Linked DNA regions of Homo sapiens: region 2 is linked to region 1. Evidence: fine-mapped expression QTL. A gene starts in region 1. The other region holds a variant in brackets. All regions are shown on one strand. Distances are between the middles of the regions.

Region 1 (4,400 bases):
AGAATCCAGATGTAGATGAGAACGGTGTTGCCTAAGGCCACACTTCAAGCCAGGCCCGTTGATTTCCAACTTATGGCTTCCTACAGCAGTGTGGTCATGAAGCCTGGAAAACAGGAAGATAGGAGTGACAAAAGAGGGACAGGAGTAGAATGAGGCTTAGGTTTTCAAAAGATGCTCATTTCATTTTGGATGACTATGGCAAGGAAGAGTGGTGGCCTGTCTACTGCTACTGTTAGTCATCACTCATGTGACTGTTTTTATGTATTCATTGGTTTAAATTCCCTGGATCTCCAGAAACATGTCACTTTCCACTGGGGGAAATTTGTGTCATGATTAAAAACACACACACACACACACACACACACACACACACCCCTCCTCCTTTCTCAGTGTTAATCACCTTCTCCTATAATTAGCACTTAAAATGTCAAAGGAGAAGAAATTAATTAACAGGAGTATCCAGTGCAGCAAGGCTCTAGGACTGATTATAAAAAGCACTTCCTTAAATATTTTGAGTGCTTTTGGGAATCAGAAGCCTCCCTTCTAATTGAAAGATCCTTAACTACACCCTAAGTCCTGGCTGGTGGCCAGGGGTGCGGGGCTGAGTGAGGCGGCGTGTGGAAATCCCTTCTTCACCATCCTTGGGAAAATTCCCTCCAAACTGGGATAGGTGGCAACAGAGGTTCGGAAACAGCAAGCGTCCCAGGCTGAATCTGCGGAGGAGGAAGAGATGAACCTTTCCTGAGCTGGTACTGCGTGCCAGGAACTTTAGCTCGGTATTTTGCCACAATCCTGTAAGACAACCGATACTATGATCTCCATTTTACAGATGAGGACATTGAGGCTCAGCGTGGTTGTGACTTCCTCAGGTCACGCAGCCACTGAATGAAAGCGCCAAAGATTCAAACTGAGGTCTGATTCTAAAGCTTTGCTCTCTCACGGCATCCTGGAATCCTATTTCAACCTTCATCTGGACTCTTAACCCAGCCCAAACCTAAGCGTCTACAGTTTTGACAGCTGAGGCGGGAGCACGGGAGGCGGAGCTGGTGGCAGCGCAGCGCCCCGCCCCGGCTCCAGCATCAGCCAATGGTGACGCGGCACCCACAGCCTTTCGCCCAATCAGCTTGAGCTTCCCGCCTCCATCCGCCGCTCTTCTCTGCCCCGCCCCTTCGCTTTCCCTTTGGTTCCACCGAGCTTGACAGAGCGGAAAGTCCCTTCGGCCGGCGCCGGGCTGGCAGCCATTGGAGGAAGGTCTGTCACAGGGAGGCCCAATCACGGCCCGCTCAGGAGCGCAGCTCGGCCTACGATTGGCTAGCGCGGCGGCTGCCCCCTCCGCCCCCGCTCCCTCCCTCTTCCCTGTGCGGTTCGGAGGCGGGGCAGGTGGGGGCGGGCCCAGGTAGCAGGTTTGGCTGCGCGGGGGCCGCGCGTCGGAGGTAAATACTAGGGCGGTGGGTGTGGGGAGCCGGGGCCGGCCCGGGACGCGGGCTGGGGAGCCGGGGCGAGGGGCGACGCCCCGCCGCCCGAGGTTAGTGAATGAGCGGGCGGCTGGCGGCCGGCGGGCGGCCGGATCCCCTCGGCGCAGCCGCCTGGCCTCAGGGCGTCCGGAGCCGCCGCGGCGACCATCGGGCCCTCGGCGCCGGCCCGTTAGTTGCCCGGGCCCGAGCCGGCCGGGCCCGCGGGTTGCCGAGCCCGCTGACGTCAGCCCGGGTTTCCCCCCCCCACCGGGGCTTCCCCATCCCCCGAGGCTTCCCGGGAGGGCTGCGAGTCCGGGGAGCGTGCGGGGTCGCCACCATCGGGACCCCCAGAGGAGAGAGGACTTGGGGCGGGAGCCGCGCGGGACGCTGTCCCCCTCCCGCCCCCCACCCCATTTACAGATTGGGAGACTGAGGCACAGGCCGCTGGCGGGCCCCGACGGCCACGGTTGGCCTCAGGAGCCCGGGGCTGTGATTCCTACCGACCGCGCCGCGGGGCGTACGTACCGATCGATTTTGCGGGTGTTGGTGGCTCCCGTCCAGGAATGGCAGTCGGGGTTCTGGCCTTGTTAATGGCGTGTTCTGCTTTTTCTTTCAGTTTCCCCCTTTCTAGGGTGAGGATGGTTCTACACAGCCACCCGGAGTTCCTTAGTTGAAAGGTGCGCCCTGCTGTGACAGGTATTCTTTCTTTATGTTTTTCTTTCATGTTAACAATCGAGGGGGGTGGGGGGCGAATGGGGGGCGGGGGCGAAGTCATGAAATCTTCAGGAGATGGTGTTGAGTTTGGTACTCAGCTGGGTCAGCTGCCGGTTATTCATGTACTTGGCATCGTTTCTCTTCCACCCCTTGGCATTTGAATGTTTTAGGATAGTTGTCATCTTCCAGCCACCAAGCCTGTGGCCTTGCAGTCTCCCAGCCCCCATCATCCCTGCCACCTTCTTCTCCTCAATTTTTCCTGGAAAGTTTTATCCTTAGCTCAGCTAAGGAGCATGCCTACCTTGCTTTTGAATTCGGGCTAATTAGGGATCTTAATAAGATTGTTCATTTTGCAATCATTGGCTCTCAGAGAAGCACCCAGGCCTTGAGAGGGTGTTCGTTTGATTGTTGGCTTTCTACACACCCCCTCACGCCCCAAGTAGACTGAATGGCCTTAAGAATTTAGCCTCCCATTCCCCACTGAGCAGTAGGTGGATTTGAACTAGAACAGTATTAGGAGAAAATGATTTGCTGGAAATTCTTATTGAAGTAACACCCAGAACATTCTCTAATATTCTGCTGCAAAATTGTATAGTATTCTTGCAAATAAACCTTCCTCTGGGTGGTAACTTTTGTGAGAAGCAGATAAGGCTTGTTATATAAAGCACAACTAACATTAAGCAGCAATGATTTTTATAGTCTGGCACACCTAAACTGTGGTTTTGTTTGATTTAAGGAAGTCTCCAACACAGGGAGAGAGAAAGGAATAGTTATGTTGTTTATCAAACTATTAGTATTTTGTTCCTGATTTTCACACTATGATTTAAATTAGTTTTTTTTTCATTGGTTGTACAGAATTTATAAGCATCATACATGCTAGTTGAGGCTGTAGGAAGCTAGTATCAAATAAACCTCAAAACAACTTGGTTTCGTAATTGTGAAATTTTCCGTATTTGTTTCTTCTTATATGTATAACAATGAAGTGGTTTAGCATGATTTCATTTTATCTAGAGAATTACTGAAGTTTTAGGCAAAATTCATTAAATACTCCCAATTCCTGAGTCTTTTTCTCTTCTCTTTCTCTTGGTTTAATCCCTTAAACAGGAGGAGGAAATGCAATTTTGTTTTCACTGTTACCACTTGAGTCTTTCATTCATTTCTCTGTATTCAGTGCCTAGCATATGCCAGGCTCTCGTGTGGGCACTGGATAATATAAAAATGAAGGACTTGGGGAATTCACAGTTTGGCAGTGGAGTGGCTAGGTTTAACACTAGAGAGGCAGCAGTATTCCTTGTTCCAGTGGGAATATGCAGATGTGAGAGGCTCTTCTTTTCTTTTTTTTTTTTAACCTTATAAATCCCACTTGTATTAGGGACTGTGTACTTGTGACACAAATTAGTCATTGAGGAAAATTAAAACGGACTCAGTCTTTTTTCTGGCCACGGAATCTCTGTATCTCTATTCTTTAGCTGTTTAGAAATATAACAACTTTGTCTTTTAGTGAGAGATGTTCTCTTTTAAAAGGATGATCATTCTAGCTATCCAGAAGCTTTTGGAAAAAGGCCCACATGTCTTCTTTCTTTGGTGTTCAAGCTGACCTTCCTACCTCTTTGCCATTTATAATTAGGGGCAGAATTAAGTATTGTAAGTTTTATTCTAATTTAAATAGCTTCCTGTGGTTTTTAGAACAAGCAGGATATCTTTGGAGATGCAAAAAGCTCTTGAATTGGATCTGTCTTTGTGAGATCCTTATGAACAATATAACCTGATAACTTGAGAATCAGAAAAACACTGCATCTTCTGGATAAGTTAACCATTGTTAGTTTTCTGTAGCTACTGATGTTCATTTGTACTATATGTTGCCTTTCAGAATGTGGTAATTGTAATCTTTAACATTTTCATGTAAAACATATTTCCTGATCATCTTTCCATTGTCTTCATGGAAAATTGATAAATATTTGTGCCTTCCAACTCTCGTCTTGGTTGAATGACTTCATCTTAATACAAGTAAGTTCCCCTTTACTCAGAATCCAGACCATCAACAAGCTCAGATAACCAGAAATGTTTTCAAATCTATGTGAACCTGAACTGTTCTCCTTCATCAGCGTCCTTAAAGGAAAGGCCTTCTGTTCAACATGGCTTTAGGGTTAAACATATTATTGTGTTTCAACTCGTTGGTAATTTTCATTCAGTATTTATTACCAAGATATTCATAATCACACAGTTATCCAG
Region 2 (4,400 bases), 35 kb after region 1:
TTTCACACTGCCTCTTCTACATTCCCTTGATCAGTATTTAGGAGTATTCTATGATCATTGCTGGGCTTTAAGGTCTAGAGTGGTCTTTGTATTCAAAACAAGTTTGCCACACTTATTACACCTATATTTCAGAAATAATTGTGAGTGTTTTCTTCAAATATATTATTGTTGTGTGTCTCTGGCTTTCTGTATTTTTAATCTATGCATAATTCTCTATGTTTTCCTCTTTTATATGTATAAGTGTTTGTATACACATCTGTGTTATTCTTAACATATATGTTTTTAAAAACAGATATATGTTCTTAACCAGAACTTTCTTTCCTAACCATGATACATATTCCTAACCAGGCTTTTTTCAAACTGTGTTCATGAAATAATATTAATCTGAGATGCTAAGCAAAGTGGCACAAAAATTTTTATCAATAAGTTTATTTTGTTTCTCCCTGAGCAGTTCACAATGCACATTAGCATATTAAAGGCTCTGGTTCCGTGCAGTAAAGAAATTGTTTATCTTTGTTTATCTCAGCATCTTCAAGAAATATTTGAGTTCGAAACACTTCATAATACACAGGGGTGTTCTAAGCCTGCTGATTTGGGAAATGCTGTAAAAAACCGAGTAAGATTTTCTTTGTAGTGTTTTAAGAGATCAAATAAAATTGACTACAAGTGATTAAATTTTCAAGAGGTTAAAGCATTTAGCTGAATTGTATTTTGAGAGGGTATTTTCTTATAGAAATTACATTTTGAAATACAGCATTGGTTTTTTCCCCCATAGTATTATCTTTTTCAATACTTTTGATGGCCTTTAAAAGGCATTTGTAAAACTAAAAATTCTGCCTTTTTGTGGAAAGAGGGTTTTTTTATTTTGTTACTGTCATTCCTTGTTTCTCTTCTATAAGAATTTGCCTTTATCTTTAAAAAACATGCTTACTGTTTCAGAGAGTGTGACGCAGGAAAGGAGGCCTCCCAAACTTGCCTTTATGTCAAGAGGTGTTGGGGACAAAGGTTCATCCAGTCATAATAAACCAAAGGCTACAGGTATGGATTAATAGCATATAACCTTTAGTAATTTGCATAATGCCTAACTTGCCATAGCATTAAAAAAGATTATAAGCTATTACTTCTGAACATGTATGTAGACTTTTTTTCTTTCAAACATTTTTAGTAGTGAAACTAAAGTTTGTATATAAATACTGTTGCTTAAGCCAAGTGTTCCCAGCCTTTTTTACCTCAGGAAGAGTTCCCCATAGGGTCTTGTGTGTTTTGCTGGTCTATAATCAAATGGTTTTTGGAACTCCTTACTTGGAATATTTGTATGTATAGTTTAGGATTGCAACTGTGTAAAATAATCCTATATGGATAATGTTATATAGGATAAAGTATACTAGAGGTTAATTAAATGGATTTTGCTAACTAGATTTGGTACAAATTAAATCCCAAACTGCTAAGCAAAAATTTCTTCTCTTTCCCAGAAGCTTCCTCACAATATGTGTGGAGCTTACAGCTCTTTTTTTTGTTAGCTTCCACATACTTCATAGATTTATAGAATAGTAGTTATACAAGCCAAAGAGCTCATTAAAAAGGCTCTGAGAATTTTTGTTAACTCAGATGCGAGTTAGGAAAAGAATATTTTTTCCTCAATTATTACAATTTTGGCTCATTTAAAAGGAAATTGTACTTTAAGAATTATTTTATGTGACATTGGGGCCTGGGAGACTTAGGATTAATTGCAGGATATATAGGTAACAGTCTTTTTTATGTTAACCTATAGATCTATATAGGATAGCTCAAACTTGCTACTCTCACTTAAATAGAAACAGACTAAAGATTTTCTTAAGCTATGGCATGTTAATTGTATTGTAGTAGATCTTAAAGTTATAAAATGTACAGCTACCTGCTTTAATTTGAAAAGGGAAATCAGCTTTTTTGTGGGTTCTGGAGAGCCCACTGCCCTCCACTGTGTGTGGTATGTCCTTGAATTAATACTGAGGCAGGGTAATGTCATGAAATGGCTGTGGCATAGCTACACTCGCCCTCTCACGTATAATAAATCCAATCTGTAAGAAATAATAGTGCTTGATTTTTTCAAAGACACAAGGAATTTGATGACCAAAAATTCCAAAATGTTTAAAACTTAACTATTTTTAAATGTAATTTGTGTATTGATTTATATATAGAATTTGAGGATTACCTTCTTTTAAAATAATAGGTTAAATTTGTGAACCAATGGGTCTATGAAATGAAGCTGGAGAATGGTGATTTTGACATTTAGAAATAAGCTGTGGTACATGGAACAATTTCTTAAAGCAGTTCATTTTTTT[T/A]AAAAATGAGTGGGCTTTTCTTTTAACTTACTCCTGTTTCCCTCCTATCTTGACTTTTGGGCTGAAAAATATTTTTAATATTGTCAAAATGGTTACCAAATTTTTAAAAGCTGAAGACAGTTAAAAAACATATTGTGTTTATATACATTTATTGGTTATGTAAACAGTTATTAACATCATATTCATAATAATTTCTCTTACTAAAAAAAAACTTTGATGCTATATTGACTTTATTTTTAAATGAAACTTTTCTTGTTCCTATAGGATCTACCTCAGACCCTGGAAATAGAAACAGATCTGAATTATTTTATACCTTAAATGGGTCTTCTGTTGACTCACAACCACAATCCAAATCAAAAAATACATGGTACATTGATGAAGGTAATCAGTAATTTTAGTGTTCTTTATAATGATCCTTTCTTTCTAACTCATCAGAGAAAAATGGTTTTTTATATCAATATTTGTAGTTTTTGGAAACAGAATAAGTAGACCGCTCTTTGTAATATTGCTGAACTAAAATATTGTACACAGTTTGAACCGTACTGCTGTTAAGATTATTAAAATGTTTAAGAAATGTATTAGTAATTTGTTCTTTTCCTTTAACTGCTGATCTATTTAGGGTGGAAGATTTCTGTCTGGTTCCTTCCTGACCTCTTTAAAGCACTCCCTTTTAAAAAATTTTATCTTCCCTTGGTCCTGGGACATCATTTTCACCTAGTTTATTCTCTTCTTTGTTCATTTGTTCAACAAATATTTATTGAGTGCTTATGATTGCCAGGCATTCTTTTAGGCATCAAGATGAAAATGGTGAGAAAAAATAGACATGGTTCATGCCCTTTGTGAGTTTGCAGTTGTTAAGTTGTTGAGATAGAAATTAGTCAAACAACCACAGACACAGTAGAGTTGCCTTGGTGGTGTGTGCAGTGAAGGTGCATGATGCTGTGAGAATACACCAAAGATGATTTTTCTCAGGGTCTTAGGGGTGTTTCTTTGGGGCAGTGACACATGCTTAGGTTTACCAGAGGAGTGACAGATGACAAAGTGAAAGGGGCTAGAACTTCCTCGGGAGAAGAAATAGCATAGGGAAAGTCCTCCTGGAAGAATGGAAGCTAGTGTTTGCCAGGGACTAGAACACAGACAGAGGCATGACATTCATGAGATGAGAATGGAAAGGCAAACAGGCCTGACTCTGTGGTCTCCCAGCCTTTAGAGTTTTGCCTGCCACATTTGTTTTTAAGGCACCTGGAGCTGATTTTCATGTAAAGTATGAGTAGGATTCCTGTTTAATTTTTTTTTAAAAATATGGATAACCAATTATCTCAACAGCATTTAGTAAGAAGTTCATTCTTTTGTCATTGATCTGCAATACCTGCCTGTCAGCTGTATTAGTCATTTTAAGAAAATAGCTTTTGGCTGTGGCTCTCTTTATCATGTGTTTGGTTTCTCTTAAATTACATTCTGTGTTTGTGTTTATTCTGGCTTTGAACTTCTTATTGTATGTTTGTTTTCTCTCTTCTGTTGTTTCTGTTCTTTAGTTTATTCTTCTCTACTTTTTTGAGGGTTATTCTGTTCTTTTAACTTCCCAAGTTGTATGCTGAGTTCATATTTAGCTTTTGTTTTTTTCTGAAATAAGCAATGAAGTCTATAAAATTCCCTTATAAGTATTAATTTAGCCATGTTTCACAAGGATTCTTTCTTTCTTTGTTACTTTTTCTCTCTTTTTTCTTTATTGTTAAAACGTATTATTTCTTTTTTGATCCATTAGATATATAGAAGCGTTTCTTAAGGTTTTCGGTATCTTTTTGTACTGCCTTCTCAATTAATTGTATTTTGGACAAAGACTATCACGTATACGATACCCGCTGATAATAGATTTTTTTGGTTTGAACAGTTGGGTGCCATTGACTGAGGTGCATAAATATGGAGGTGGAGAGAGGAGCGAGAACACTGTTGGAGATAATAACTTTGTGATGCCTATGAGAGTACTATTAATAGCAGGGAGGTCAGGTGGGCAGTTGGACTAGATCTGTATATAAATTTTTAGAAATGTAAGACAGAGTCAATATCCTTGAATACATT

The links. PIP is the estimated chance that this variant, and not a neighbour inherited with it, causes the effect. A credible set is the group of variants that fine-mapping cannot tell apart.
Region 2: its variant is the best candidate, but not a certain one, in a credible set for the expression of CYLD-AS1 in whole blood (INTERVAL, PIP 0.87).

The regions. Positions count from the first base shown.
Region 1 is chr16:50,740,692-50,745,091 of GRCh38, forward strand. It overlaps CYLD-AS1 (CYLD antisense RNA 1), which reads right to left and starts at 2,056. Exons shown (of 7, transcript NR_184279.1): 1 at 1,980-2,056; 2 at 637-713; 3 at 1-103. It overlaps CYLD (CYLD lysine 63 deubiquitinase), which reads left to right and starts at 1,395. Exons shown (of 19, transcript NM_001378743.1): 1 at 1,395-1,433; 2 at 2,071-2,150. It overlaps MIR3181 (microRNA 3181), which reads left to right and starts at 1,614; the gene lies at 1,614-1,686. RefSeq lists a silencer at 1,210-1,809 and an enhancer at 2,050-2,149.
Region 2 is chr16:50,775,240-50,779,639 of GRCh38, forward strand. It overlaps CYLD (CYLD lysine 63 deubiquitinase), which reads left to right. Exons shown (of 19, transcript NM_001378743.1): 7 at 940-1,038; 8 at 2,586-2,702. Among named protein-coding and RNA genes, the nearest start is that of CYLD-AS2, 26 kb to the right of the region's middle. RefSeq lists a silencer at 3,207-3,366. The variant T/A (reference allele first, on the strand shown) is at 2,322.